Regions from separate parts of the Homo sapiens genome. Here regions 1 and 3 are each linked to region 2. Evidence: fine-mapped expression QTL. A gene starts in region 2. Each other region holds a variant in brackets. All regions are shown on one strand. Distances are from middle to middle.

What was found.
Region 1: its variant is fine-mapped to the expression of NPFFR1 in anterior cingulate cortex (GTEx, PIP above 0.99).
Region 3: its variant is fine-mapped to the expression of NPFFR1 in cerebellar hemisphere (GTEx, PIP above 0.99).

The regions. Positions count from the first base shown.
Region 1 is chr10:70,345,293-70,355,729 of GRCh38, forward strand. All of the region lies in intron 2 of LRRC20 (leucine rich repeat containing 20), which reads right to left. Among named protein-coding and RNA genes, the nearest start is that of LRRC20, 32 kb to the right of the region's middle. RefSeq lists enhancers at 10,054-10,153, 10,374-10,437. The variant G/A (reference allele first, on the strand shown) is at 5,166.
Region 2 is chr10:70,278,076-70,288,512 of GRCh38, forward strand. It overlaps NPFFR1 (neuropeptide FF receptor 1), which reads right to left and starts at 5,929. Exons shown (of 4, transcript NM_022146.5): 1 at 5,595-5,929. The coding sequence starts at 5,601. RefSeq lists an enhancer at 5,136-5,637.
Region 3 is chr10:70,359,153-70,369,589 of GRCh38, forward strand. The region is part of intron 2 of LRRC20 (leucine rich repeat containing 20); the gene reads right to left. Among named protein-coding and RNA genes, the nearest start is that of LRRC20, 18 kb to the right of the region's middle. RefSeq lists an enhancer at 9,748-10,249. The variant G/A (reference allele first, on the strand shown) is at 5,541.

The sequences.
Region 1 (10,437 bases), 67 kb after region 2:
AAGACTCAATCTAAGAATCAAAATACATCCTAGATAGAATTACACGTTAAATATTTTTAAACCAAATTAAAAAAAGTAAACTTAATTGAACATTTATACAACCTCTTAAGTGAGGATGACTTCCCAAATCTAGGAGCATAACAGAATCACAAAGGAACAGATCAACAAAACTAACTGCATTAAAAAAATATAAAACACTTAGAAGCTTAAAAAGAGTAAAGCAAACAACAGGGATCTGTAAATAGGATGCATACAGAGTCATCTTTATTACTGAAACTACTCAATATAATTGAATAAAGAAAAAATTAAGACCACCTGAGAAGGAAAGGACGTAAGATATTTACAAAGGAAAAAACATAATTAGTAAACAAATATATAGCTCCTGATGTGTTTCCAAATTGCTTTCCAGAATATTTATGCCAATTTACATGTAACCTATCCAACAAATAATAGAATCATTAAAAAGAAAAGAAAGCCTTGCTAAGTTGATCAAGGGAAATGGTATCCTGCTTTAATTTGCAATATTTTCAATAATGAGACTGACTGTCTTTCATGGTTAATTAACTGTTTTTCAGCTAGGCATGGTGGCTCACACCTGTAATCCCCAAGGTTGGAGGATCACTTGAGGCCAGTTCACAACCAACCTGGGCAACACAGCAAGACCCGTCTCTACAAAAAATAAAATACGGCTGGATATGGTGGCTCACACTGTAATCCCATCATTTTGAGGGGCCGAGGCAGGGAGATCACTTGAGTTTGAGACCAGCCTGGCCAACATGATGAAACCCTATCTCTACTAAAAATACAAAATTTAGCCAGGTGTGGTGACGGGCGCTTGTAATCCCAGCTACTCAGGAGGCTGAGGCAGGAGAACTGCCTGAACCCGGGAGGCCAAGATTGTATCACTGCACTCCAGCCTAGGCGACAGAATGACAGAGAGACTCTGTCTCAAAAAAATAAATAAATAAAATAAATTTGCTTGACGTGGTGGTGCCTGTGTGTAGTTCCAGGTACTCGGGAGGATGAGGTGGGAGGATCACTTGGGTCCAGTTCAAGGCTGCAGTAAGCTATGATTGCATCACTGCACTCAAGCTGGGCAACAGAGCAAGACCCTATCTCTAATAAAATAAAGTAAATATTAATTAACCATTTGTTTCCCCTATGGAAAATCCTATCCATGTCTCACTATTTTTCTACTTGGAGCTCTGGCATTTTTTTCTCCCAAATGTTTGTAGAGCTCTTTAAATAGTATTATCAACCCAGGTGTGTTGATTGTTTCTCTTGTTGAATCATTCATGTTACAGAGCGTAGGGTTTTTTTCTGAAGCAGGACATAAAAACCATATGCACATTGTAATTCCAACTAGGTATAAAAGGATACATGCCTGGGAAAGACAATAGAAAGAAAAATAACCAGAATGCTAACAGTGGTTATTTCAAAGGATTTGAGCAATTTGTTACTAAATTATAGTCTTCATGGTTGTTTACTTTATACAAAGTAAGTAAAATACCATTCTATATTTATATAAAACCATTTGCCAAGTATCTGTATACAGTGATACTTTACTTTTAAAATAAAAAATTAATGTATCATAAAATTAGCTATTTTTCTGAGACAGGATCTCGCTCTGCCACCCAGGCTGGAGGGCAGTGGCGTGATCTCGGCTCACTGCTACCTTCACCTCCCAAGCTCAAGTGATTCTCCCACCTCAGCCTCCCAAGTAGCTGGGACTACAGGTGCATGCCACCATGCCCTGCTAATTTTTGTATTTTTAGTAGAGACAGTGTTTCACCATGCTGCCCAGGCTGGTCTTGAACTCCTGGCCTCAAGTGATCCACCTGCCTCATGTTCCCTAAGTGCTAAAGTTAACTTTTATTGGAAAAAATAACCTGGCAAATTCGCAGATAAATTGAGGGCAGCCAGCTCTTCGTCAGTGAGGGAAATAGGGAAAAGCAGATCCAAGAAACACAGGAACTCTGCATTGGGCTGGGGCAGAGCTGTGAATAGGAGCTTTCAGGGACCACCACTCCCCACAGTAGGGAGAGAAAGTGCTTACAACGGAGGAAGAAGCCATAAAGCCATGCAAGTTATTTCCAAGGGTACTCAAAGCAGCCTGTCTTTCCGGAGTAGATCAGCCCAGAAATGTCCAGCCCACAGTCCCATTCCGACCACCTGGGCCATCTACACACCATCCCAACCTCACACCACCCACCCTTCCAGTCTCTGATTTAGGCAACATACAAGTGCCGGGCACGGTGGCTCACGTGTGTAATTCCCAGCACTTTGGGAGGCCGAGGCGGGCAAATCACTTGAGGTCAGGAGTTCAAGACCAGCCTAGCCAACATGGTGAAACCCCATCTTTACTAAAAATACAAAAATCTGCCGGGTGTGGTGGCGCGTCCTATAATCCCAGCTACTTGGGGGGCTGAGGTGGGAGAATTGCTTGAGCCTGGGAGGAGGAGGTTACAGTGAGCCGAGATCACACCACTATACTCCAGCCTGGGCAACAGAGCGAGACTCCGTCTCAAAAAAAAAAAAAAACCCAAAAAACACACACACACAAAAAACAAGCAACATACAAGCCCTCTGCGGCTTCATCTGGCCAACTGACACACCGCAAGGCCACATTAGAGGATGCCGAGGGCCTGGAATGTCACCTCCGACACCTGCTTCTTTCTTTCACTCTCCACAAATAGCTATCGAGGCCCTCCTGTGTGCCAGGTACTGATCTGCACAGTATCCTGTGACTTACCTATGACTTTTTTGTGTCCCCAGGGATTCCATCTGTTTTCTCCATTATGTGACCCCTCCAGTACCCACCAGAGGCCAGGATGCATGAGAGGGGTGCACCACCAAGCTCCTACCCAGAACAGCCTGGCTGCCACCAACGTCAAAGGCAATCCAGGAGTTCCACAGAAGGGCCCTGCTGGGATGTGATGCAAACACCCCTCATCCCAGCCCCATCACCAGCCACTAACACAGCACATGGACTCTCACCCCTGCTGGGAGGAGAGGTCCATGATCTCCAGAACAGTTCTCCATGGTCCCGGGACAAGAAAATGGAGATCCAGGAGCAAATATCATCCTTACACAGTCATGTTCCCATCTGTACACAAGGAGCAATATGCTGTATGCCACACACGGGGGATGGGAATAATAACAACCATAAACAACACCACTTACTATTTCACATGTGCTATGTAAGTACGAACTATCCCCTCTGCACACAGGAGACTGTAATAAAGTGACTTGCCCCAGGTCATATAGCTAGAAGTGAGGACGGGGAGATTTGGATCCAGGTTAGGTGGATCAGGAAGCCAGGGGTCCCAACCACTCCACTCTACTGCCCCCTTGAGTCAAAAACATGCCTAGGTGCCTGGCTCTAGGCCAGGCCAGAGAAAGGGAGTATATGCTGAACTCCCCCATGGGAAACCGAGGTCTTGTCTACAAACTCCTGTAGGCCCTTCAAGTTCAGAGCCCTCAATGCCTCTGGGGAAAGGGGCCAACAGCCTTCTGCACGAGCCAGTCACCTTCTGTTCTCTGGAAATTCCTCTGCAGGTCTAATTCAGAGGTTGGGCACCATCTATACCCATTCTACCAGTTTGCAGAAGGAAAAAGCCCCATGAGCCCCAAGTTCAATGTTGGGCCCTGAGTTTATAGGAACAGACGGCACTGCTGCCAGAGAACACAGCCAAGATGTGACTGGGGGCCAGGTCCCACTAGGGAAGGGGGGCCCCACCCAGGGAAGAGAAGATCCAGGCTGCAGACAGGAGAGAGTGGTCCTCAAAGAGCTGTGGGATGTCATCGAGAAGGTCTCATTCTCTATGGGTCCTCAGCACAGACAGTATATAGTTCACCAAGGCATAAAGAAAAGGCTCCTGGGTGAGGACGTGAGGACCGCATCAAGCAGCATGGTCAGGCAGAGTCTCCACAGAGAGAATTCCTAAACCAGCAGAGGCCAAGCTGGTGATCTCAAAGGTCCCATTCAAGTTAATAAGCGCAGGGCTGGGCATGGTGGCTCATGCCTGTAATCCCAGCATTTTGGGAGGCTGAGGCAGGTGGATCACCTGAGGTCAGGAGTTCGAGACCAGCCTGGCCAACATGTTAAAACCCTGTCTCTAATAAAAATACAAAAAGTAGTCGGTCGTGGTGGTGCGTGCCTGTAATCCCAGCTACTCAGGAGGCTGAGGCAGGAGAATTGCTTGAACCGAGGAGGCAGAGGTTGCAGTGAGCAGAGATCGTGCCACTGCACTCCAGCCTGGGCAACAGAGCAAGACTCTGTCTCAATAAACAAATAAATAAATAAAATAAACACAGCTAACAGCACTGAGTATTTGCTATGTGCCAGACACAGTTCTAGGCACTTTTTCTATAGTAACTCATTTAATTCCTTTGACAACCTGAGTTACCCTCACAGCAGGAGAATGAGGCACATGTTGATAGGTAAATTGTCCATGGTCATTGTGGTACAGTGATGGGATCTGAATGCAAAGATTCAAAACCAAAGATTCAAGTAGGGTGACGAGTAGGGCAGTTTAAGCAGGACTTTCCTAATTTTAGCATTGAGAGTCTTGCATCCTGGGGAATCCCTCCTCAGTCACTGGCAGATTGGGATGTTTAGGGTCACCCTAGATTCAGGTGGATGGATGAGAGTTCTACAGACAAAAAGGAGAGAGGGAAGGGAACCCAGGAGTGAGCCACAGCATGAGCAAAGGACTGTCACCCCTCTGGGACTCCCTCCTTGAGCTCTGCCTTCTTCTACACTTTCTCAGAGCCTCGCCCATGCTGCATGAATGCTCAGAGAAGAAGGCTCCTGGCATTGGAATCATTTAGTGCTAAATGGCGGTCACAGACCCCGACAGGGGTCAGGAATGGCATGGTAGGTAAGGGGCAATGCCAGGCTCCTCCAGCACCATGTAGACAGCAGCTAGACTTTCCCTAGCAGCCCCAGCCACTGACACCTGGGCTGCAGCAGGGAACAGAAAGATCCTTGGGGGAGGCGGTAGCAGTACAATAAACACAAGCTGTGATGATCCTCCTAATTACAATTATTATTGCAAGAAGACCAAACTGCATGTCCCCAAACTTCTAATTAGAACAGTTTTTTGCATTAATAAAGAAGCCTTTTATTCAAATTGCTTGGGTCCTTTATTAAAGCTTATCTC[G/A]TTAATTCTAATGAATGCTTGATGAAAAGTAATCAGTGGGCAGAACCAGGGCAGAAGGAGCAAAATCCAAGAAGACAGAACACTCAGCTGGAATTCAGGAGCGCCTGATTGAGCTTGCATGGTGACTTAGAAATATAGAACTTTGACCCCTGCCAGCCCCTGCTGAGAAGTGGGCCTGGTGACAGGGCCCAAGAGTGGGAAATGGAGCAGGACTTCCCTGCCAACCAAGTCACAGGGCCCAGAGGCGAGGGTGTCAGGGACTCAGGCCAGTAGGCACATGGGCTTGTGACCTAGCCAAGAAGTAAGGCTCCCAAGGCTACTGGAGGAACTCTGTGGCCAGTGTGACCCACTCCCACTGAGAAGCTTTCTTCATGGAATCTCAGGGTTAGGAGACCGGGGGTCCTTTGGCCGACGTTTGCCAAACTTCTGAGTTAGAATCAACTGAAGGCTGGGCACAGTGGCTCATGCCTGTAATCCTAGCACTTTGGGAGACTGAGGCAGGATTGCTTGAACCAAGGAGTTTGAGACCAGCCTGGGCAACACAGTGAGACCCTGTCTCTAGAAAAATAAAAAATTAGCCAGTCATGGTGGTGCACACCTGTAGTCCCAGCTACTCAGGAGGCTGAGGTGGGAGGATTGCTTGAGCCTAGGAAGTCAGGGCTGCAGTGAGCCGAGATCGTGCCATGGCACTCCAGCCTAGGTGACAGAGTGAGACCCTGTCTCAGAAAGAAAAAAAAAAAAGAGACAATCATCTGAAGAGGCTGGTCCTTTCATCCTCCCCCAGATATTCTACCTTTCAGTGAATCTGGGATGGTGCCATGAAATTTGTTTTTAACAATATCCCCAGGTGATTCTTATCAATAGGCAAACTTGGGAAACACTGAGTAACACAGCCTCCAATCTGAGGCCTGAAATCTCTCCATGTCTCCATCTGAGGTCATAGAGTTCTCCTTGAACACTGGTGATGGGAGGGCTCCCTCCTCCTTCCATAGAATGAGTTTAATTGTTAGAGAGTTCTTTAACGAACTGTATTAATAACTGCCACCCTTCACCACTCACCAGTCCTGCTGCCCTCTCTTCTGCATGGCAATCCTTCACATAAATGATGACAAAGGACATTATAAACATTTTCTTTTTAATTATTGTAAAATACACATAACAAAAATTTAGCGAGCGATATGACCAAGTTTTACGGGAAAACTCCCGTGATTTTCAATCAAACATTGCATAAGTAGCCAAGGAGCAATGAATAGCAGCAACTAGAATCATGGAAGCCATGCATCTATAGGCATGAGGAATGGGAGGGATGTCTAACACGTCCAGTGTGAGTTGTGGAGGGAAATGTAATTGATCGATCCTAATCACTGACTCTTGGTCAACTTTACAGTTTCTGCAATACAAGCTTGTGATTTATGCTTACTCTCTAGTGGAAATCAGGATTGTTATGAAGACTTAAGGCTCAATATTTTTTAACACAATACTCATCTAGGATGTAACAGTGAAGCCGAGTAAACTACAACTGTTGAGCAAGTTCCAGCTTTTCTCAAGTTAGTTATATTATAGGGTGTACTTAGTAAGCATATTTAGGTGAAAGAAGTTGAATTATGTTAAATGTTGCCCTTTGCCACATTACACTGAACACTGGATGCATGTGGAAAGACATGCTTTGTTTTTTGTAAAACTCAAGGTAGGAGCTGTGTCTAGAAACATTTTGGCATGTTTGTTAATTCTAGTTTCACTTAATAACTTGTAAGGCATGTACGTTTAAGCTTTTTTTTTTTTTAAGTTAATGGGAAAAATCTGAAACGCAATACCAATACTTTAGAATTTTGGCCTTGGTGTTTGTATGAAATTCTGAGGCCTTGATTTAAATCTTTCATTGTAGTGTGACTTCCTTTTAGGTATATTGTGCTAAGTGAAACTTGTCAAATAAATCCTCCTTTTAAAAACTGCTAAAAAAAATGTAGCATTTTATCAGTGGCAAGGGATTAGCAGGCAGAGCACAGAGGATTCTCAGGCGGTGAAAGTGACATGTGGCAGACACATGTCATTATACATTAATCTGAGCCTAAGGCTGTACAACACCAGGAGTGAACCCTAATGTGAACCATGGACTTTGGGTAACAATGATGCACCAACGTAGGTTCACCAATTGTAGTAAATATGCCCCTCTGGTGGGGGATGTTGATCATGGAGAAGGCAATGCCTGTTTGTGGGCAGTGGGGAGTATATTGGAAAATCTCTATTCTTAACTCTTAATTTTGCTTGTGAACCTTGTGAACCTAACACTCCCCTTTAAAAATTAAATATTTTTTAAAATGTGCCATCTTAACCATTTTTAAATGTACAGTTCAGTAGCTTTAAGTATATTTACATTGTTGTGCAATCAACTAATCTCCAGGACTTTTGCATCTTGCGAAACGGAAACTCTTTACTTGTTAACCCCCTATTTTCCCATCCCCCAGCTGCTGGCAACCACAGAACATTATAAACTTTTTTCCAGGCAAAAACATCCCCAGAAACTTCAATCCTCATGGTTCTGGCTGCTCCCGTGAGAGGAGCAGGACCAACCTAGCTCAGACTCTGGCCTGGCCAGAACTTTCTCCTGCACCGGTGTTGAGTCTCTAACACATAACTGCAGCCACCACTGATTGACACCAGGTGTGTTCCAGAAGCTGTGCTGGGGCTTCAGACCTTTTATTCCCTCCATTCCTCACAACCACCCTATAAATAGGTCACTACTATGCTTACCCCTGGTTAACAGTTAAGGAAACTGAGTCATGGAGAAGTCAAACAAATTGTTCTAAGTCATATGACTTATTCAAGGTCAACCAGTTAATGAAATAATAAAAAACATTTACAAAGTGCCTGCTGCTTGCAATTAGTGATCTCAGCTTGTCATGCATTAACTCAGTTAACCCCCACAACATCACAACATCCCCATGAGACAGGCACTATTTTGTATTTTTTATTTTTTTGAGACAGAGTCTCACTCTGTCACCCAGGCTGGAGTGCAGTGGTGTAATCTCGGCTCACTGCAACCTCCGCCTCCTGGGTTCAAGTGAGTCTCCTGCCTCAGCCTCCTGAGTAGCTGGGACTACAGGCATGCACCACCACGCCCAACTAATTTTTGTATTTTTAGTAGAGAAGGGGTTTCACCATGTTGGCCAGGCTGGTCTCGAACTCCTGACCTCAGATGATCCATGAGATGGGCACTATTATTACTATTCCTGTTGTACAGAGGAGGAATCAAGACACAGAGCCAGGAGTCTTGGTTAGTAAGCTGCTGAGCTTAAGGGTTTGCTCCTAACCACCATGCTACACTGCCTCCCTAGAATATGTAACCCGCATTCAGGACAGCCTGCCATGCTGAAACAGATTGGGAGGTGGTGGGTTTCCAATGAGCAGATAGATCTTCCATGATTTACAATGGGTTCCCTGGGAACACTAGTATATTGCAGTTCCCATGGAACTATATAAAAGGGGACTTAGAGTTGAAAGAGCTGGTGAAAGAGTCATCAGGGTATCAACAGCCTGGATTTGTCACTTACTGTCTGTGGGACCTTGGGTCCTTATGCCCTTAGTTTTCAAATCTTGGTAAATTGCAACTGATCATCTCCAAGGCCCCTTGCAGCTGCCACTGTGGATTCTAGGACTTGGCCACAACCAGGAGCCACCTTGGGAGCTCTATAGACTCTTGATGCCTAAGTCTCTCTCCCAGAGAGTCTGATTTAATTAGTGGGGGCTGGGGCTTGGGAATGGAAGGGAGGGTAAAAGCTCCCTGGGTGACTCTAACGTGCAGCCAGGTGAACTCTGCACCATACCATCACCTCTCAAACTAAAGTGTGACACCTGGGGACACTGCCAACGTGCAGATTCTGATGCCACATGTCTAGGTGGGGCGTAAGAGTCTGCATTTCCACCCAGCAGGTCCAAGGACCACACTAAGTAGCAAGGGCTACTCCAGTGCAGTGGTTCTCCAAGGGCATCAGCATCACCCACAGCATTAGCATCACCCCAGAACTTGTCAGAAAGGCACATTCTCAGGCACCACCCCAGTCCCACAGAATCAGAAACTCTGGGGGTAAGGCCCAGGCATCTGTGTTTTAGCTGAAGCATCACTGGCCTAGAGGGGCCAGGCCTCCTCCTGATGTAGCTGCTTCCTGTATTGATGATGATAATGGGGTGGTAATGACAGTAACTGAGTGCTGGCTGCTCCTGCCTGCCTAAGGGCATGAGGTTTACACGCTCATGGAAATTTTTTGTGCCCTGGGTTCCTCCTGCTTCCCCTCTGAGCAGACTATTTCAGGACAGAGCAGCAGAGACAGAGTCTCTTCACTCTCTTCTCTCGCTTTGTTCATGCTTCTGGTACTCAGAGGCACACGTGACCCTCGGTGTGGAGGCCGCCCTGGGCTGTAACTCAGGAGGCCTAATTCTTATCCCAGCCCCTCCACTATCAGCCAGGGGGAGCTCAGAGACACTACTTCTTCATGGGCCTTGTCCCCTCATCTGTAAAATGAGGGTTTGGACTAGATGATTTGGGGTCTCAACCAGACCAGACATCCTCTGACTCCATGATTCTACTAAACAAAGGCTCTTCAGACAGCCCTCTGTCAAACAGGAGCCCCCCATGACTTGAGCTGCCAGTCTCTGAAATGTCACTCAATTTCCAAAGTAGGGACACACAGGATGCAGACAGCGAGCAAAACAACTGCTCATCAAGGGATCGTGCCGTGCATCACTGGGCACAATTAGGCATCACTTTAACAAAGCTGTTTGTTGTAGTGCTTACAGAGCTGGCTGGCTCTAAAAGGCTTAAGACAAAAAGCAGCCGGACTTGCTCCCTCTTGACAAATCCCCTCCCCCAGGGACAACCACTTTCAGGTCTTTGGGGGTGTTTTACTCCCGATCTCTAGAGCAATGTTTCTGAGCCTGTTTCCTGTCTCATGCCCCTTATAGAGAAAAGGGCATGGGAGGAAGAGCTCACCGAGGACCACATACGTCCAGAAAGTCCCACCGCAATAGCACACACAGCTACTGGGCCCGGGAGGGTTGTCGGGAAGAGAAGGGCAGAAAGGCACTTCGGGAAGGCGCGTCTTCTGAGACGTGGGGAAACCACTCAACTTGAAAGTGCCAGTGGGTTTAGGGGGATTTTTTTCTTTCACTTCCTATTTCATGGACTTGTATATTGTGCAAGAGTTTTACAAGCACTTAATGACTTCTTACAAATATCTCCAGTTTAAAGAAAGGAACATCCCCAACATGCAGTGAC
Region 2 (10,437 bases):
ACAGATGCTGGGCCAGCCCTGAGTGATAGAAAGTTCTTCCTGAGGTTGAGTTGAGTTGTCTTACTGCAACCTTCCCTCACCAGTCCCAATTCTGCTCCCAGGAGCCAGAACAAGAGTGAGCCCCTGTCCCCAGAATCATCCCCCTCTCCCCACGTCCCAGGGTATCCAGCAAGAGGGACTCCAGACCTATCTCATAGTCAGTGTGTTTTGGGACCTCCCCTACCCACCCCCCACCCTGCCCCGTAACTTTCCTGAAGAATAAAAGCCAGATCTCCCCCATCTTGAATGTAAGCCATTAATTTTTTGAGACCTAAATTCAGGACTTTACATTTCACTTACATGTACCTTTCATTTTCTTGGTTTTAATCCAGCATTTTGGTATGTTGAGATAACCTTAAATCTTGACTTTATTGCCTTGTGGGTGTTACAGCTCCTAGCCACAGATTTCATAAGCATGCCTTTTATTTTCCCCCTAAATTATTAATTAATGTCATATCAGGGTTGGAGTTCTAGGGACCCCTAGGCTGCTATCAAACCTTTCATAAAGCCCCCATTGTTGGTCCTCCAGTATCCCTCCTACGTCTCTCAATCAATTCACGAGTTTTTTCTGAGAGATCTTGGCAGTGTCCTGATGAACTTTCGTATTCATCATTTTTCCTCTCAGAAACCCATTCTGGAAGAGGAAATCTGTAGGTTTAGCTTGATTTGTTCTTTTGTTTGTTTTGGAAATATTATTTAGTAAAACGTGCACACTGTGAATAGCTATGTAAAATTAACAGCTGGATAGAGTTACAAAAACATTTACCAGCCAGTTGTGTCTTATGAACAGTTGCTCCAAATGGTATTGACATGATTTTTATATTTTTTTAGATTTAAAATAAGTTTTAAGTTTTTTATTGCAAATTGACAATTTATAATTATATAAATTTTTGGGATAAAAAGCGATGGTATAATTTATGAATACAAGGTGGAGTAATTAAATCAAGCCAGTTAACATATCCATCAAATACTTAACATTTTTTGTGGTGAAAACATCTGAAATTTAGTTTTTGTTTTTGCTTTTTTTAAGTAAGATTCAATCTTTTTTTGTATGTGTGACCGAGTCTCGCTCTGTCACCCATGCTGGAGTGCAGAGATCTTGGCTCACTGCAACCTCCGCCTCCCAGGTTCAAACGATTCTTATGTTTCAGCCTCCCAAGTAGCTGGGATTACAGATGTGTACCACCACACCCGGCTAATTTTTGTATTTTCAGTAGGAATGGGGGTTCACCATGTTGGCTAGGCTGGTCCCAAACTCCTGACCTCAGGTGATCCGCCTGCCTCAGCCTCCCAAAGTGCTGGAATTAGAGGCGTGAGCCACTGCACCCAAACTCAATCTTTATTTATTTATTTATTTATTTTTAAGATGGAGTCTTGCTCTGTCGCCCAGGCCAGAGTGCAGTGGCACAATCTCAGCTCACTGCAACCTCCACCCCCTGGGCTTAAGCAATTCTCTTGCCTCAGCTTCCCGAGTAGCTGGGATTACAAGTGTGTGCCACCACACTCAGCTAATTTTTGTATTTTTTAATAGAGATGGGGTTTCACCATGTTGGCCAGGCTGGTCTCGAACTCATGACCTCAAATGATCTTCCCGCTTTGGCCTCCCAAAGTGCTCTGATTACAGGCATGAGCCACTGCACATGGCCCTCTTGGCAATTTTGAAATGTACAATACTCTATTATTAACTCTATGCACCATGCTGTGCAATAGAATTCAAAAAAAGAAAACCATTTCTTCTGTCTAACTGAAATTTTGTACTCTTTGACCACCATCACTCCATTCTCCCCCACCACAGAGCCACTCTACTCTCTGGTTCTATGAGTTCTATAGTTTTAGATTCAATATATAAGTGAGAACATGTGGTATTTGTCTTTCTGTGCTTGACTTATTTTACGTAGTATAATGTTCTCCAATATTGTCCATGATGTTTTAAATGACACAATTCTGTCTTTTTAAAGGCTGAATAGTATTCCATTGTGTTTACATACCCCATGTTCCTCATCCATTCATCGGTTTATATACACTTAGTTGATTCCATAGCCTGGCTATTGTGGATAGCGCTGCAATAAACACGGTGGTGCAAACATCTCTTCAAGTAACTCATTTCAGATTTTGGGGTAAGTACCCAGAAATGAACTTGCTGGATCATATGGTAATTCCGTTTTTAGCTTTTTGAGGAACCTCCATACTATTCTCCATAATGACTGTGCAAATTTATTACATTCCCACCAACACCACACAAGGGTTCTCTTTTCTCCACATCTCCAACAACACTTACTTATCTTTCGTCTTTTTGGTAAAAGCCATCCTGACAGGTATGAGATGATGTCTCATTGCGGTTTTAACTTGCATTTTCCTAATCATCAGTGATATTGGGCATTTTTTCATATACCTGTTAGCCATTTGTATGTCTTCTTTCGAGAAATGTCTATTCAGATTTCTTACCATGTTTTAATTGGGTTTTTTGTTTTCTTGCTGTTGAGTTGTTTGAGCTCCTGGATTTGTTCTTAGTGAGTACTAATATAGGCTCCTAATGAACAATACATTATTTTCTTTCTTTTTGAAAACGCTTTTTTGTTTTGTTGTGCTTATTATAAAAGAATTCTAGGCTGGGCGTAGTGGCTCACACCTGTAATCCCAGCACTTTGAAGGGCCGAGGCGGGCAGATCACGAGGTCAGGAGTTCAAGACCAGCCTGGCCAACATGGTGAAACCCTGTCTCTACTAAAAACACAAAAATTAGCCAGGCATGATGGCACATGCCTGTAATCCCAGCTACTCAGGAGGTTGAGGCAACAAAATTGCTTGAACCTGGGAGACAGAGGTGGCAGTGAGCCGAGAACACGCCACTGCACTCCAGCCTGGGCAACAGGGCGAGACTCCGTCTCAAACAACAACAACAACAACAACAAAGAATTCTGAGCACCGCAAAAGAGAGAGTAAACCTGACAGAACCCTCACATCCAGAGATAACCCCTATGTTTGTGATGCTCTCTGCCTGCCACATCCCATTGGCCCAAAGATTTCAGCTGGGGTGAATGGTTCCTCAAATTTTTAGCACCCCACCAGGTCTGCACCTGGGAGTCTCTCTGCTCTGCTTCCTCTGAAGTCACAAAAAGGGACAACCCAAAACTGCAGGAGTGGGGCAATACCAGACCAGTGGGGAGGTGAAGCAGCCAACGCCACCTCTTAGGTGGGGTAAACCTCGGGTTCACCCTGCACTTTTCTCAGAGTGTCCCCAGCAGGATAGAACCCCCCAGTTGCCCACAGCTAAAACCAGCTCATTAAGGCACCCATTTCTTGCCTTTTCTCCCTTCTTCATCTCACTCTCCTCATTCCCTCACTTCCACTGCCCGGCATCATCTCCCAAATAGACTCCCTATATCCAAGCTCTTGTCTTAGGGTCTGCTTTCAGAAGCAGGAGAATCAAACAAAGATGTTAGTGACTACCTCTTTGCGTATACACTTGTATATGTATATTTCCAATAATAAACCTATGTAATTTTGCATAAAGGGGATCACACTACACATGCATTCAAAAACCTGTTTTTTTTTCTAATTACTCACAGTGGGTAGTGAACATATTTCCATGTCAATAAAGAAAATCCTAAGCACAGTTTTTAATGTCTGCATAGTATGCCATTGCAGAAGTGTCTCATTTTTTATTTAATTTACATAATTTATGGCTATCTGGATGGTTTCCAATTTTGCACTGTGATGAACATGCTCAGGCACACATCTTTGCAAGTGTGCAGCTCAGAATTTGAAAAAATTCTGAGCTGAGGGAGTGCGTTGTTGTCTCCTAAGTGTACACTGTGTTTGGTCATTTCTTCTGGAATTTTAATAGAGGTCAAAACTAATCTTAGCAGTGTAGAGGCTTTTTAGATAAAAAATTTATATTTCCCTTTTTTGAAAATCAGGACATTTGCCCATCTTCAGTTTTCTGGCACTTCCTTCATTCTCTGTAGTTTCCTCAAAAGCAATGATTATATCTGTAAATACCTCTGGGTCGCTGGGATGTCATATGTCTGGGCTTCAATGAGTGAGCTCATTGTAGGTAACTTGATGTCTTCTTCCTATCGCTTGACTATCTTGGGTCTCTATTTCCTCCTTATCCTCTTTATTCCACAATTTGAAGTAAAATTGCCTGTATCTTGCTCTGCCTGCCCTCGAGCCTAAGCCAGAGCAGATTCCTTCTTGTTATTCTTAGACTTTGAAAGCTTTTTGCTCTTGTCTTTGCCAATTTCCCCCGACTTCTGTTCACTGGAGCTTCAGGGCTTTGCTAACGCCATTCTTACAGATCTGCCAATCTTCCAGATTCCTCTTGGGTTATTGATTCCTTCTTGCCTCTTTTGTGTGTGTGCTTTTCATACCCTGGCTCATTGGAAAACTACAAGTGCAGCCTCACAAGATTTTCTATAAAACTTGATTTTATTTTTTAACAGCAGTGTTTGCAATTACTAATTGGAATTTTGGGGTTTTATTACCTCTTGCCACAGCTGCCTCATACTGGCGTGTTGTACAACATATCTTATTTTATCCTCACAGACACTCTCTGAAGCCAGCTGAATGTTAAGTTCCCCCATTCGATAGATGGGTGACCAGTGGCACAGAAAGGTTTAGGCACTATCTCAAAGACACCCAGCAAGACAGTGGACGAGCCCTTGGTTTTCCAGTTTCTTAGCCTAAATATGGTTCCCCTTGTCCACAATGGCTGAGAGAGGGTTCTGGTAAAGTGGGAGCAAGCAGCCTTATGCCTTGGTCCGCTATCCCTTAAAATCCTGAAGGTAAGGTCCATAGTTCACTCTCCTTTCCTTAGGGAGAGAAATTCTCTCTACATGGAGGATATCACCTCTAGAATCCCATCTCCCCAACAACCCCACCCCTTCAAGCAGACAAAGTCGGTGACAATTCTTCTGAAGCTAATAGCCAAGCTGTCCTCACCTGGTCTCAAATGATTCTCTGCTCAGACAGCAGGGATTGTGTGCGTGCACACACACAACAGGGACTCTCTCTTTTTGTGTGTGTGTGTGTGTGTGTCTTGTACATGCACACACATATGTACAACACAAATACAGAGGCACCCCAGGTCTTTCTCTCTCTCTCTCACTCTCTCTCTCTCTCTCACACACACACACAAGCACAACATGAATACAGAGGCACCCCCAAGTGTTTCTCTGCCTGTCTCTGTCTCCCTCTCTCAGTGTCTGTCTCTATGTCTCTGTCTCTGTCTCTCTCTCTCTCTCTCTTTCACACACACAGGCACAACATGAATACAGAGCACCCCCAGGTCTTTCTCTCCATCTGTCTCTTTCTGTCTGTCTGTTTTTCTGTCTCACATACACACGCACACACACACACACCATGAACACATGGGCACCCCAGGTCTCTCTCCCTCACTCAGTGTCTCTGTCTCTGTCACACACAGAGTGTCACAACGTCTGGCTCTGGACAGCCATGGGTGATCAGCTGCCCGGCCCTCTCCTCTCCCTTCGCCCCATGCCCCGGAGTCGGTACCCTGCCCCACGGCTGGCCCCCAGCCCCAGGACCACTCACCCTCCATGATGCCCCCAGTTGCGGGCTCCGGCGGTCTCCGATGGCGGGAGGCAGCGGGCCCCTTCGGGCCAGCGGGCAGAGGGACGGTCTCCGGGCACTTGGTTGCGGGCTGCGCCCCTGCCTCCGCGCTCCGCAGGTCCGGTCGGTCCGGGCAGAGGTGAGCAGGGGGCGTGCGCTCCCAGGCCCCGGGCCCTGGCCGGTTTCCCTCCCCTCGGGCTGACTGGCTCCCGCGCAGCGCTGCTGCCCGCAGGGCTCAGCCGCCCGCCGCCCCTCGCCTCCCGACCAGGGGAAGGAGGGGGCTCGTGAGGCGCAGTCGTCATGGCACCCGCGCACCTGTGCCCGCCGAGCGAGGGCGCCCCGGGCCCGCCTCCCGCATGGCGCTCTCTCCACAGAGCCCGAGCGCCCCTCCGAAGTAGGGGACACACCCCTCCTCCCACTGCAGCCCTGGCAGCGGCGTCCCGTAATTCCCCACCTCTCTCCCGTGCCTCATATGCCAGCCTCTGTCCCCACTCCTCATCCTTGCCCACCCTAGCCTGGGGTCCAGCACTCTGGGCCTTCCTGAGAAGGGGATGAGAGGTAGCTGTGAAAACAGGAGGGCTTCGGGAGGGAGGCAGGGGGGAGCCCCACCAGCTCCCGGCTCTCCCAGGAGAATGGGGACAAGTTCTGCTAGGTGACCACGGCTTTGAAATTAACCAGTTCAGGCATTCACCGGGTGGTACCCTTGGAAAAGTTTCTTATAATAATACCTGTGCCTGAGTGTGTTTCTGCATTTGTAAAATGATTTTGAGGGGAGTAAATGTGATACCAAAGTTTCAGCCCAGCCCATAGTAGATGCTCAACAAATGGTTCCTTGAGCTGAATTGGAGAATACTCATCTCCAGCCCCTGTCAGGCACCCAGCAGGCACCACCATAAATTTTCGCCACATGAATAAAGATCCCAGGTTCTATCTGCACTCCTGTGTTTTTCTTGCAGCACTGTTTACAATAGCTAAGATTTGGAAGCAACCTAAGTGTCCATCAACAGATGAACGGATAAAGAAAATATGGTACATATATGTAAATGGAGTACTATTCAGCCATAAAAAAGAATGAGATCCAGTCATTTGCAACAACATGGATGGAACTGGAAATCATTATATTAAATGAAATAAGCCAGGCACAGGAAGCAAACGTCACATGTTCTTACTTATTTGTGAGATCTAAAAATCAAAACAGTTGAACTCATGGACATAGTAGAAGCATGTGGTTACCAGAAGCAGGGAAGGGTAGTGGGAGGATAGGGATGGTTAATGGGTACAAAAAAATAGCTAGAAAGAATGAATAAGACCTATTGTTTGACAGCACAATAGGGTGACTATAGTCCATAATAACTTAATTGTATATTTTTAAATAGCTTAAAAAGTATAATTGGATTGTTTGTAACTCAAAGGATTAGTGCCTGAAGGGATGGATACCCCATTCTCCATGATGTGCTTATTTCACATTACATGCCTGTATCAAAACACCTCATGTACCCCATAAATATATACACCTACTATGTACCCAACTATTTTTTTAAAAAAAGATCCCATGTTCTAGGCAGATGAAAGAAAGTGAATGGTCTATTCCTTCCTCTTTTAGGAGTCAGGAGTTTGCTCACTGGACACTGGGGAAACAGTTGGCATCAAGATTCTTCCTAGTCTCACTTCTTTCCCTAGTTCCTCCTCTGTCCAGAGCAGTGGGCAGAGTCTCACAGCTAGAAGGTCCTTAGGGGTCACTGAGTCTAACCCTGACCCAGAGCGGGCATCCTGACCCTAATCCCCAGCAAGAAGTATCCCCAGCAATGGGTACCTCTGCCATCATGTCCCTCTCTCTTCCCCTAGGGCAGCCCTTCAGAGGTCAAGTGGGAGGGAAGTTGCTCCTTCAACGCTGCTGTTCTACTGGAGAAACACAAGAATTTCACTGGGCTTTTTTCTTTCTGTGACTTGCCTCAGTCTCTTCATCTGTAAAATGGGCATAATAATGGCACCTATCTCCTATAGTTGTGAAGATTAAAGCAGTTACTATATACAAAGCATGTGAAACAGTGCTTTGCATATAGACAGTACGCAAGAAATATTATTCATCTTATCACTATCTTGAGTCCACCTCCCTGTAGAAGTGCTCACATTTCTTGAAGTCCCTCTGATAAAACCCAGAAGTATGTCAGGTCATATTAAGCCCCCTTGAGCAATGCAGAGTTTGAGGCACTGTGCTGTAAAGTCTGTATAGCCCAGCACTGCCATTTAGAGTTGGTGCGCTTTGGGAAATTTATATGTCTTTGTGCCTGAGTTTCCTCTCATCTACAAAATAGGGATAATAGTACCTACCATGTAGGGTTATGAGAATTAAATGAGTTAATATATGTAAAGCCCTGACAACATGTAGGTACTCAATAAATATGAGCTACAATTACAGGGGCAATAGAGTTTTTTTTTTTTTTTTTTTTTTTTGATAAGGTCTTACTCTGTCACCCAGGCTGGAGTGTAGTGGCACAATCTCAGCTCACTGCAACCTCTGCCTCCCAGGTTCAAGTGATTCTCCTGCCTCAGCCTCCCTAGGAGCTGGGATTACAGGCATCCACCACCGCAACCAGCGAATTTTTTCGTATTTTTAGTAGAGACGGGGTTTCACCATGTTGGCCAGGCTGGTCTTGAACTCCTGACCTCATGTGATCCACCTGCCATGGCCTCCCAAAGTGCTGGGATTACAGGCTTGAGCCACCATGCCCAGCCGGGGCACTAGACTTTGAATAATGCAGTCTCACTTTTTCGCTTTCTTCCCTTTCCTTCCTTCTTTCCTCAGCAGCCACATCATTCTAGCGCCTTGTGGTCAATTGCTCCACCATCTTTTTTATTTGAATAGTTCCAGATCATAGAGCCTTTTCTTCCTTTTCCCTCCTCTTCTACAGACATTTTTCTTCTACCATTAAAACCTTCCTATAGTGTCAAGTCCACGTGGTACCAGACAAAACAAATTTCGTGGATCTAGCCTTGGAGAGCAGGCAGGGCAGTGTGTCTGAGTGTGAATTCTATCTCTACTATTTGTTAGCTGTGTGACCCAGGGTAAGTCACTTAAGCCCTCTGATATGGTTTGGCTACGTCCCCATCCAAATCTTACCTTGAATTGTAGCTCCCATAATTGCCATGTGTTGTGGGAAGGACCGGGTGGAAGGTAACTGAATCATCGGGGTGGGTTTTTCCTGTGCTGTTCTTGTGATAGTGAATAAGTCTCACAAGATCTGATGGTTTTATAAAGGGCAGTTCCCCTGCACATGCTCTGTTGCCTGCCGCCATGTAATAGGTGACTTTGCTCCTCCTTCACCCTCTGCCATGATTGTGAGGCCTCCCCAGCCATGTGGAACTGTGAGTCCATTAAGCCTCTTTTTCTTTATAAATTACACAGTCTCCAGTATTTCTTCATAGCAATGTGAAAATGGATTAACACACCCTCTAACCTCATTTTCCTCATTTGTAAAATGGGATTTATACTACTTTTTCTAACGGCTGCTGTGTGGATTAAAACAGCATTAAATACAGTGCCCTTCCTCATCCCCAAAGTCATGGGTGGAGGCCGAACAGACAGATTGGGTAAAAGTTGCTCCATGCAGATAAAGAAAAGTGCCCCCTCTCTTTCTCCTCCTGTTGTGGACTGAACTATGTCTCCCCAAAATTGATATGTCAAATTCCTAACCCCACAATGTGACGGTATTTGGAGATAGGAAGTAAGTAATTATGGTTAAATCAGGTCATAAAAGTGAGGCCCTAACGACATAAGGTGGGTGTCTGTATAAGAAGAGAAAGAGACTGGGTGTGGTGGCTGACACCTGTAATCTCAGCACTTTGGGAGGCTAAAGCGGGTGGATCACTTGAGCCCAGGAGTTCAAGACTAGCCTGGGCAACGTGGCAAAACCCTGTCTCTATAAAACATATGAAAAAAATATATGTATATAGCCAGGCGTGGTGTTGTGTGCCTGTAGTTCCAGCTATTCAGGAGGCTGAGGTGGAAGGATCACTTGAGCTCAGGGGGCTCAGAGGCTGCAGTGAGCTGACATCACACCACTATACTCCAGCCTGGGTGACAGAGCAAGACCCTGTCTCAAGGGAAAAAAAAGAAAGAAGAAGAGAAGGAGACACCAGGAATCTACATGCATAGAGGAAAGGCCATATGAGGCCACAGCGAGCAGGTGGTCCTCTGCAAGCCAAGGACAGAGGCCTCAGGAGAAACCAAGCCTTTCAGCACCTTGATCTTCGACTCTAACCTCCAGAACTGTGAGAAAATGAATTTTTGTTGTTTAAGCCAGGAGTGTCCAAATTTTTGTTGTTGAAGCCCCAACCCCTGAGTCACAGCCTGTTAGGACCTGGGCCGCACAGGAGGAGGTGAGTGAGCATTACCGCCTGAGCTCCACCTCCTGTCAGATCAGCAGCAGCATTAGATTCTCCTGGGAGCGCAAATCCTGTTGTGAACTGCACATGCACAGGATCTAGGGTGCGCACTCCTTATGAGAGTCTAATGCCTGATCATCTGATGTGGAACAGTTTCATCCCCAAACCATCAGCCCCCACCCCCGAGTCCGTGGAAAAATCGTGTTCCACAAAACCAGTCCCTGGTGCCAAAAACGTTGGGTTTAAGTCTGTGGTATTTTGTTATGGCAGCCCTAGCAAACCAAGATACCTCCCTACCCCAAAGCAGCTCCCAGGAAACCTAAGGCAACATTATTCTCCATTGCAGATCATGCTTTTCTCCAAAGTTCACCTGACTGCAGGGCTGGGGCGCTTCTCTGCCCTGAACCTTGGATGCAGAGTCTTTCAGTCAAACAAGTCA
Region 3 (10,437 bases), 81 kb after region 2:
GGCTGTATCTACACAGAAGAATCCCTCTCCCTGCCCTCCAAACCCCAGCCCCGCCCTTCCATTCGAACACCTGAACACCACTTTCCATTACATCACTCTCCCATTCAAGAATCTCCATGCCAGGCCAGGCACAGTCGCTCATGCCTGCAATCCCAGCACTTTGGGAGGCAGAGATGGGAGGATCATTTTAGCCCAGGAGTTCAAGGCCAGCCTGGACAACATAGTGAGACTCCGTCTGTATAAAAAATAAAGTTAACTGGGTGTGGTGGCATGCACCTGTGGGCCCAGCTACTTGGGAGTCTCACTTGAGCCCAGGAGTTTGAGGCTGCAGTGAGCCAAGATCATGCCACCACACCTCAGCCTGGGTAACAGAGTGAGACCTTGTCTCAAAATTATACTCTCCATGCTAGTTTGGAGGTGCTGACCCCACTGTCCAAAGCCTAGCATCCACACAGAAGGATCCAGCTCCCACCTCCCTTTCTAGATATCCCTCTTGCACCTCTTCATCAAAGCTCTTGCCCTCTGGCCAAGCCAGGCTGCTTATTATTCCCTGCAACTCCCTTTATTTTTCCACCTCTACATTTTTGCTGGTACTGTTCCCATTAAGTAGAATGTTCTCCCTTAGCTTCAAAAGTTCTCGTCAACACTGTATTTCAAGGACTTGTTTAAATGCCTCCTCTCCACTAAGCCTCTGTTCATGTCCTCAACTAATGTAATTGCTCCTGCCCTTGAACCCCCGTTGTTCCACTGCATTTTTTTTCTTTTTCTTTTTTTTTTTTTTTGAGGTGGAGTCTCCCTCTGTTGCCCAGGCTGGAGTGCAGTGGCGTGATCTCGGCTCACTGCAACCTCTGCCTCCCAGGTTCAAACAATTCCCTGCCTCAGCCTCCCGAGTAGCTGGGATTACAGGTGCCCACCACCACACCCGGCTAATTTTTGTATTTTTAGTAGAGACGGGGTTTCACCATCTTGGCCAGGCTGGTCTTGAACTCCTGACCTCATGATCCACCCGCCTCAGCCTCCCAAAGTGCTGGGATTACAGGCGTAAGCCACTGCGCCCATCCGCATTTCTTTTATTTTTGTTTTTACTAGAGATGGGGTATTGCTATCTTGCCCATGCTGGTCTCAAATACCTGGCCTCAAGTGATCCCAGTCTGCCTCCCAAAGCATTGGGATTACAGGTGTGAGTCACCACACCTGGTTCCTCATTGCTTTCCTCCTCCTCCTCCTCCTCCCCATCTCCCTCCTCCTCCTCCCCCTCCTCCTCTTCTTCCTCCTTCTCTTGCTCTTCATTTCTTTTCTTTTGAGACAGGGTCTCACTCTATAGCCAAGGCTGGAGTGCAGTGGCATGATCATAGCTTACTGCAACCTAGACCTCTCAGGCTCAAGTGATCCTCCTGCTTCAGTTTCCTGAGTAGCTGGGACTACAGGCTCACGCCACCCTGCCCGGTTAATTTTTCTTTTAGTTTTTTTGTAGAGACAGTGGTCTCACTATATGGCCTAGGCTGGTCTTGAACTCCGGGGTTCAAGTGATCCTCCCGCCCTGGCCTCTCAAAGTGCGAGGATTACAGGTGTGAGCCACCACACTGGGCCCACTGCATTTCTGCCAGCTCTGTCAGGGTCCCTATCCCGTTGTGTCTCACATGAAAGTTGTCAACGTGTTTGTCTCACTCTTCCTAGCAGGGCAGAGAGCTCCCAGAGGGCAGAAATTAGGTCCCACTGAAATGGGTGGCATGTTAAAGAGGGTATGGGAACTGTCATAATGGCACACGCCTATAGTCGCAGCTACTCTCAGGAAGCTGAGGTGGGAGGACCACTTGAGCCTAGACGGTTGAGGCTGCAGTGAGCTATGATCATGCCACTGCACCCGACTGGAAGACAGAGTGAGACCCCATCTCTAAAAAAAAAAAAAAAAGAGAGAGAGAGAGAAAGAGAGAATGAAGGCACAGGAGGCCAACAGATTCAAGTTCAAATCTCAGCACAAGATTTTAAGATTTGCTGGCTGTGAGCGTCCACACAAACCACTGCAGCTCATGAGGCCTCAGTTTCTCCTTTGATAAGTGACATGAAATATCACCTCTCCAGAGCTGGGAAAATCAGATGCACTCACTCATCAGACAAATATTTCCTGAGTATCCACTATATGCCAGCACTGTCCGAGGATATGATGGTGAGCAAGAGAGAGTGAGTCTCTGCCCTCAGGGAGCTTACGCCCTAGTGTGGCGAGAAGGCAGTATATGAGGGAATGGCAAGCAGTGATAACTGCCCTCAAGAAAACAAAACGGTATAATGGGAGAGCAGGTAACTGAGGCAGGGGCAGGGGCAACCCTCACTAGGGTGATCAGGAAGGGCTTCTAGGAGGAAGTGACATTTAGCTGAGACAAGAATAAAAAGGATAAGATCTGAGAGGTACAGTGTTAAGAGAAGCAAACAAATAAAAAAGAATAAAAAAAGAGCAGGGCATACAAAGATTTGGGGAAAGGACGATCAAGGTGGAAATCACAGCAAGTGCACAACTTGAAGGCACACCTGCCGGGGCCCAGTCATTGGCTCCCTCCCCCACCCTCACCCTCCCATCCCATCCTCTGCAGAACGGTACACAGACACAGGACACAGTAAATACACATCTGCCGGAGTGAATGTGACAAAACCAGGAATCTCGAGGATGAACTGGAGCACGACAAAAATAAGCACCTTAGCCAAAAACAGTCAACTGAGATTGAGGCAGATGCCAGTTAAAAAGATCTTAAATTCAGGCCGGGCATGGTGGCTCACACCTGTAATCCCAACACTTTGGGAGGCCAAGGCAGGTGGATCACATGAGACCAGGAGTTCGAGACCAGCCTGGCCAACATGGTGAAACCCCGTCTCTACTAAAAATACAAAAATTTAGCCAATAGTGATACACGCCTGTAATCCCAGCTACTCAGGAGACTGAAGCACGAGAATCACTTGAACCCAGGAGGCGGAGGTTGCAGTGAGCTGAGATCGTGCCACTGCACTCTAGCCTGGGTGACAGAGCCAAGACTCTGTCTCAGAAAAAAAGAAGCATTTAGGCTGGGCCTTAAAGTATAAGAAGGGCCCAGACACGTGAAGAACAGGGAAGAGCATCCCAGGCAAAGGGAACAGTATGTGCAAAGGCCTGTGGCTAGAAAGGCTTAATAGTTCAAAGGACTGATAGTCTGGGCTGTAAAGATGAGGGAAGCCCCAAGCTACTCAAAGTGCAGTCAGAGAATTTTGCAAGTGTCAGGTCATCCACAGCTTTGTGGTATGATCTTGGGTTTTACTCATTGTGTAGAAGAAGCCGATGAGGGTTTAATACAGACAGAACTGCTAAAGGTCAGCGCTGGAGTCCCACATTTGACAGATGAGAACTGGGCCCTGCAATGGGGAGTTAGAGTGAGGACCAGAACCCCAGCTTCCTCATTTCTGGACCACAGCCTCCTGTAAAACAGAACTCTCATCTTTTCACCTCACCCAGCTTCACTTGGCGTGAGCCCTGTCCTGACAGAGCTGACTCCACCCAGTGCCAGGCTTGGCCCCTTACAGACATGACCTCCCAGAGCAGCGTGCCTCAAGGGGGGCAGTTTTGCCCCCAGGGGACATTTGGAAATGTCTGGAGACAAATTTGGCTGTTACAACTGGGGGTGGAGTGAGGGCAGGGGGTGCTACTAGTGTTATCAACTGAATGTATGTGTCACCCCAAAATTCATAGGTTAAAATCTAATCTCTAATGTGATGGCATTTGAGGTGGGGCCTTTGGGAGGTGATTAGGTCGTGAGGGTGGAGCCCCCATGGACAGGATTAGTGTCCTTATGAAAGAGACCCCCAGGCCAGTGCAGTGGTTCAAACCTGTAACACCTATAATCTCAAGATTTCGGGAGGCTGAGATGGGAGGATCACTTGAGCCCAGGAGTTCGAGACTAGTCTGGGCAAGATGGTGAGACTTATCTCTATTAAAAAAAAAAAAAATTTTAAATTAGCCAGGCATGGTGATGTGTGCCTGTAGTCCCAGCTACTCGAGAGGCTGAGTCAGGAGGATCATTTTAGCCTAAGAGTTTGAGCCACTGCACTCCAGCCTGGGCAAAGGGAGGGAAGGGTGGAGGGGAGGGAAGGGGAGGGGAGGGGAGAAGAAACCCCAGAACATTCTCTCAAGGAAGGAAGGAAGGAAAAAGAGAGAGGAAGGGAGGAAGGAAGAAACCCCAGAAAAGTCTCTCCCTGGCCCCCCACCCACGGAGGACATGGTGAGAAACATCTGTTAATGAACCAGGAAGCAGACCTGCACCAAACACTGAGCCTGCCAGTGCCTTGATCTTGGACTTCCCAGCCTCCAGAATTGTGAGAAATAAATCTCTGCTGTTCATATTTTGCTATGGAAGCCTGAATGAACTAAGGCATCTTGCCTCAAGTGGGTAGAGGCTAGGATGTTGCTAAACATCTTACCAAGCACAGGACAGCTCCCCAGAACAAAGAATTATCCAGCTCAAAAACCAAAGGTGTCAAGACAGAGAAGTGCCCACCCAGGGATACAAAGCCTTCCTTTCAAATAGGTGCAGAGCCCTCAAGGGAAGAAAGCCCTCCCCAGGGGGCACAGGAGAAGAGGGAGAAGGGTCTTTCTTAGCCTCCCAGGAGCCCCAATCCAGACAGAGCAAGTCTAGAGGTGGCATGCTAGGCAGAAGGCTCCAAGTCAACCCCCAACACAGCACACCACAGAGGAGGCAGAGTTGGGAAAGGTCTGTCTCCTTACAGAGGAGCTCAGTCCCCCTGGGAGAGCAGCACAGACCCTGCAGTGGGGACCTCCAGCCCCCTCTCCTCCCTGGTAAACTCCCACCTGCTTCCTGCGAGAGGCAGAGAGCCAAGGATGGCAGATCTGAGGCCTCAGCCCTTGTGGCAAACAAAGCCAGGCAGCCCCAGCCATCTGGGAGCTGCTGTGTGAGAACGCAGTCCCTCCCCCATGCTCTCAGAGCTGGACTGTGCCAGGCTGACCCTCAGGACTCGCCAGGCCAGGAAACATCACAGCAAAACACACTCCCCTCACCCCTACCAGATGCCGGCCTCAGCTCTGGGCCAGGAACTACAGGCCAACAAGCCCTGGTGAGGGCCAAGATCACCACCCCACCAGGCCAGAAAAGCAGCTCCCACTCCAGTCCCTGGCAGCCCCCTTTCAGTGTAAGAGTGTGCTAGAGCGATGTCTGCCTCCCCTCCAGACTGGGCACTCCCGGGCACATGCATTGCCCTCCAGGCAGGGCACACACAGCAGCTGCTCAAAGTGTGTTTTTTGAAAGAGGAGCCAGTGGCAATTTCTGAACGAAGAAAATGTTGTGATTCAGTGGGTATCTATTAAGTGTTTCCTGAGTACTCTTGTTCAGAAAAGGGGTTGCAACATCAGGTCCCTGCAGGGGTTGGACAGGAACATAAACACAAGAAGGGAGTGGAAGCCTTGGTCAGAACACCCAGCAACAGCTCACCCAGCAACAGCCTGGCCAGGTCCCTGGGCTCGGCTTCCGGTCCTTGGCTTGGCCTGTGACAGGGCGCCATCTGCT[G/A]GCTAGTACAGAAAGAAGCAAGCGCTCAGCCAAAGCGCAGGTGGGCCCGGGAGGGACGAAAGGTGGACACACCCCTCGCGCTAGCCTTGGTCTCCCTGTTTGATTCCACAGCTCCCAGCCTAGCTGCTCAGGTCCCTCCCCAGGAGCACATCACATCCATGTCCGTATTTATTCATCATCTCCCACATGCACATCCAGAACCCTGCCAGGCAATGCCCCTGCCCCACCCCGCAGCAGCCATCAGGACAGGAAGCTCCAAATTGCAAACAGTAAGCCAGTGATTCTCAAAATTCAAGGCAAAGAAGAATCAGACACAGTTCATGTTAAAATTCAGATCACCAGGTCCTCTCTGAGATTCAACTTTTTTTTTTTTTTTTTTTTTTTTGAGATGAAGTCTTGCTCTGCCGCCCAGGCTGGAGTGCAGTGGCACCATCTCAGCTCACTGCAACCTCCGCCTCCCAGGTTCAAGAGATTCTCCTGCCTCCGCCTCCCGAGTAGCTGGGATTACAGGCGTGTGCCACCAAGCCCAGCTAATTTTTGTATTTTTAGCAGAGACGGGGTTTCACCATGTTGGTCAGGCTGGTCTCGGACTCCTGACCTCGTGATCCACCCACCTCGGCCTCCCAAAGTTCTGGGATTACAGGCGCGAGCCACCGCGCCCGGCGAGATTCAACTTTTAAAGCTCTAGAATAGGGTCCGTGGATCTGCATGCTTAACCAATAACCAAATGATCCTGATAGGAGAAAATCTTCTTGACCTTGGGTTAGGCAAAGACTTCTCACATACAATACCAAAAGTATCATGTATAAAAGATAAAACGATAAATTAAATTTCATCAAAATTAAAAATGTGAGCCAGGCAGGTGGCATGCACTTGTAGTTCCAGCTACTCTGGAAGCTGAAATAGGAGGATCTCTTGAGCCCAGGAGTTCCAGGCTACAGTGTGCAATGATTGTGCCTGTGAACAGCACTGCACTCCAGCCTGGGCAACATACCAAGACCCCACCTCGAAAAAACAAAACTAAAAAGAAAGAAAACCCAATGTTTTTTAATGGGCAAAAGATTCGAATAGAGATTTAATCAAAAACGAATGGATAGGCCGGGTGTGGTGGCTCACGCCTGTAATCCCAGCATTTTGGGAGGCCGAGGCGGGCGGATCACGAGGTCAGGAGATCGAGACCATCCTGGCTAACACGGTGAAACCCCTCTCTACTAAAAATACAAAAAATTAGCTGGGCGAGGTGGCAGGCGCGTGTAGTCCCAGCTACTCAGGAGGCTGAGGCAGGAGAATGGCGTGAACACCGGGAGGTAGAGCCTGCAGTGAGCCGAGATTGTGCCACTGCACTCCAGCCTGGGTGACAGAGCAAGACTCCAGCTCAAAAAAAAAAAAAAAAACAACAACAAAAAACGAATGGATAGCCAACAAGCACATGAAAAGTTGTACAACGTCGGCCAGGAACGTGGCTCATGCCTGTAGTCCCAGCACTTTGGGAGGCTGAGGCAGGCAGATCACCTGAGGTCAGGAGTTCAAGACCAGCCTGGCCAACATAGTGAAACCCCGTCTCTACTAAAAATATAAAAATTAACCAGGCATGGTGGCAGGCGCCTGTAATCCCAGCTGCTCGGGAGGCTGAGGCAGGAGAATCACTTGAACCTGGGAGGCGGAGGTTTCAGTGAGCTGAGATTGTGCCACTGTACTCCAGCCTGGGTGACAAGAAGTGAAACTCTGTCTCAAAAAAAAAATAAAATAAAATAAAAATAAAAGATGTTCAATATCACTCATCATCAGAGAACTGTAAATTAAAACTACAATGATACACCTCTTAATACTATAAAAAAAGAAAAAATAAATCAAACTACAATGAGATACATTACACCCTAGAGAATGTATACAAGTAAAAAACATACCGAGTGTTGAAAAGGATGTGAAGCAATTGGAGCTCTCAATCTCTTTGGAAAAGAGTGTGGTAGTTTTTTATAGTCAAACATATACTTAATATATAGAGTTGGCTCTCTATACCTGTGGGTTTTGTACCCACAAATTCAACCAAACACAGAAAATATTTGAAAATAAATAAATAATACAAATTTTAAAAAGCAATACAACTATTTACATAGCATTTACATTGTATTATGTACTATAAGTAATCTAGAAATGATTTAAAGTATACAAAAGGATGTGTGTAGGTTAGATGCAAATACTATAGCACTTTATACAAAGGACTTGAGTATCCTTGAATATTGGTATCTGTGGGGCTCCCGGAACCAATCCCCTCAGATATGGAGGGACAACTGTACAACCCAGCAATCCTACTCCTATGTATTTATCTGAGAGAAATGAAAACTTTACTGACCAGATGCCGTGGTTTGTGCCCATAACCCCAGCACTTTGGGAGGCTGAGGCAGGAGGAATGCTTGAGCCCAGGAGTTTGAGACCAGCCTCGCCAACACAGGGAGACCCCATCTCTACAAAAAATACAAAAATTAGCCAGGTACAGTGGTGCACACATGTAGTCCTAGCTAGTCAGGAGGCTGAGGTGGGAGGACGCTTGAGCCCAGGGGGCGGAGGCTGCAGTGAGCCAAGATCATACCACTGCACTGCACTCTAGCCTGGGCAAAAGAGTGAGACCCGGTCTCAAAAAAAAAAAAAAAGAAAGAAAAGAAAAAGAAAAAGAAAAAGAAAACTTTGCTTCACAGCAAAACCTGTATGCAAATGTTTACAGGCTTTGTTCGTGATGTTAAAAAATGAAACAGTCCAAATGTCCTTCAGCAGATGAAAGGATAAACGGATCATGGAACACCCACACCATGTAAAGCTGTTCAGCAGTGAAAGGAACAAACTACTGATTCCCACCAAACATGGATGAATCGCAAACACGTGATGCTAAAGTGAAAGAAGCCAGGCTCAAGAGCTTATTTACTCTATCATTCCATTTCCATGATATCCTAGAAAAGGCAAAACCACAGCGATGGAAAAGAGATCAGTGACTCCCAGGTACCAGGGATGGGGAGGGTTTGGCTGCAGGGGAGCATGAGGTGATAAAAAGGTTCTGAGTCTTGTTGTGGTTGGTTATAAAAACATATGTTTGTCAGAACTCAACTATATACTAAAAAGGGTAAATTTTATATATATAAATTATAACAATAAAATACATAAGATCAAGGCATGGCAGAATCATCTGGGAGGCCTGCTAAAATCCACACTACCAGCCCCCGCCCTCACAGATTCTATTTTCACAGCTCTGGAGTATTGCCCATAAATCTGCCTATGTTATGTTATGTTATGTTATGTTATGTTATGTTATTTTTTGAGATGGAGTCTCGCTCTGTCACCCAGGCTGGAGTGCAGTAGCACAATCTTGGCTCACTGCAACCTCCACCTCCCAGGTTGAAGAGATTCTCCAGCTTCAGCCTCTCAAGTAGCTGAGACTACAGGCATGCATCACCATGCCTGGCTAATTTTTGCTTTTTTTTTTTTTTTTTTGAAACGGAGTCTCACTCTGTCGCCCAGGCTGAAGTGCAGTGGCACAATCTCAGCTTACTGCAAGATGCGCCTCCCGGGTTCAAATGATTCTCCTGCCTCAGCCTCCCAAGTAGCTGGGACTACAGGCGCCCACCACCACGCCCGGCTAATTTTTTGTATTTTTAGTACAGATGGGGTTTCACTGTGTTAGCCAGGATGGTCTTGATCTCCTGACCTCGTGATCCGCCTGCCTCGGCCTCCTAAAGTGCTGGGATTACAGGGGTGAGCCACCGCGCCCGGCCATTTTTGCATTTTTAGTAGAGACAGTTTTCACCATGTTGGCCAGGCTGGTGTTGAACTCCTGACCTCAAGTGATCTACCCACCACAAGGATTACAGGCATCAGCCACCGCGCCCAGCCTGAATCTGCATTTTTTTTCTGAAATGAACTGAGGTTTTATTTTTATTTATTTTTGGCGGCAGGGGGGACTGAGTCTTGCTCTGTCACCTAGGCTGGAGTGCAGTGGCATGATCTCAGCTCACTGTGCAACCTCCGCCTCCCAGATTCAAGCAATTCTCCTGCCTCAGCCTCCTGAGTAGCTGGGACTACAGGTGCATGCCACCACGCCTAGCTAAGTTTTTGTATTTTAGTAGAGATGGGGTTTCACCGTGTTGCCCAGGCTGGTCTCGAACTCCTGGCCTCAGGCAATCTGCCCGCCTCAGCGTCCCAAAGTTCTAGGATTACAGGTGTGAGCTACCGTGCCCGGCCTGAATCTGCATTTTTAACCAGTACTCCTACAATCCTGATGTTGGTTACCCAGGACCTACCCTTCAGAAAATCCTGCAGGAGTGAAGGAACTGACAGAGGGACATTTGCCCATGAAAGCAGTCCATGGGGGCTGTCCCCATTGTTTCTTTAACTCAAGACAGCCTAACAATGATGTAAATCTTAAATACAAAGGTAGATGTTCACCTCTGCTTTTTTTCCTCCTTTTCAAGGAACAGGGTGGGCTCACTGTGGTTCCAAGAAGACCTGGGAGGAGAGGCAGGTGTGTGGGTGGGAGAAGGCGGGAAGAGGGAGGTTCACATCATTGGCCTCGCTTAGTTCTCTCAGCCCTCCTCCTCATCCCCACCCCCATCCCTCGGGGCAGGCAGCAGGGTGGATGGGGAAAAGCAGGGCTGTGCCCTAGGCTGACCTATGAACTCTGCTCCCACTCCAAACAGCTGTGTCACCAGCAGGTCACCTACACTCAGCCTAGCTCCAGCAGCTATAAAACAGAGGAAAACTACTGCAAAAGCAAAGCAGGAGAGGAGGGAAGTTGAATACCCTTGTACAACAAAACACTTAAAAACATCAGATAAAATACTTGAACCTGGGAGGCAGAGATTGCCGTGAGCCGAGATGGTGTCACTGCACTCCAGCGCCTGGGTGACAG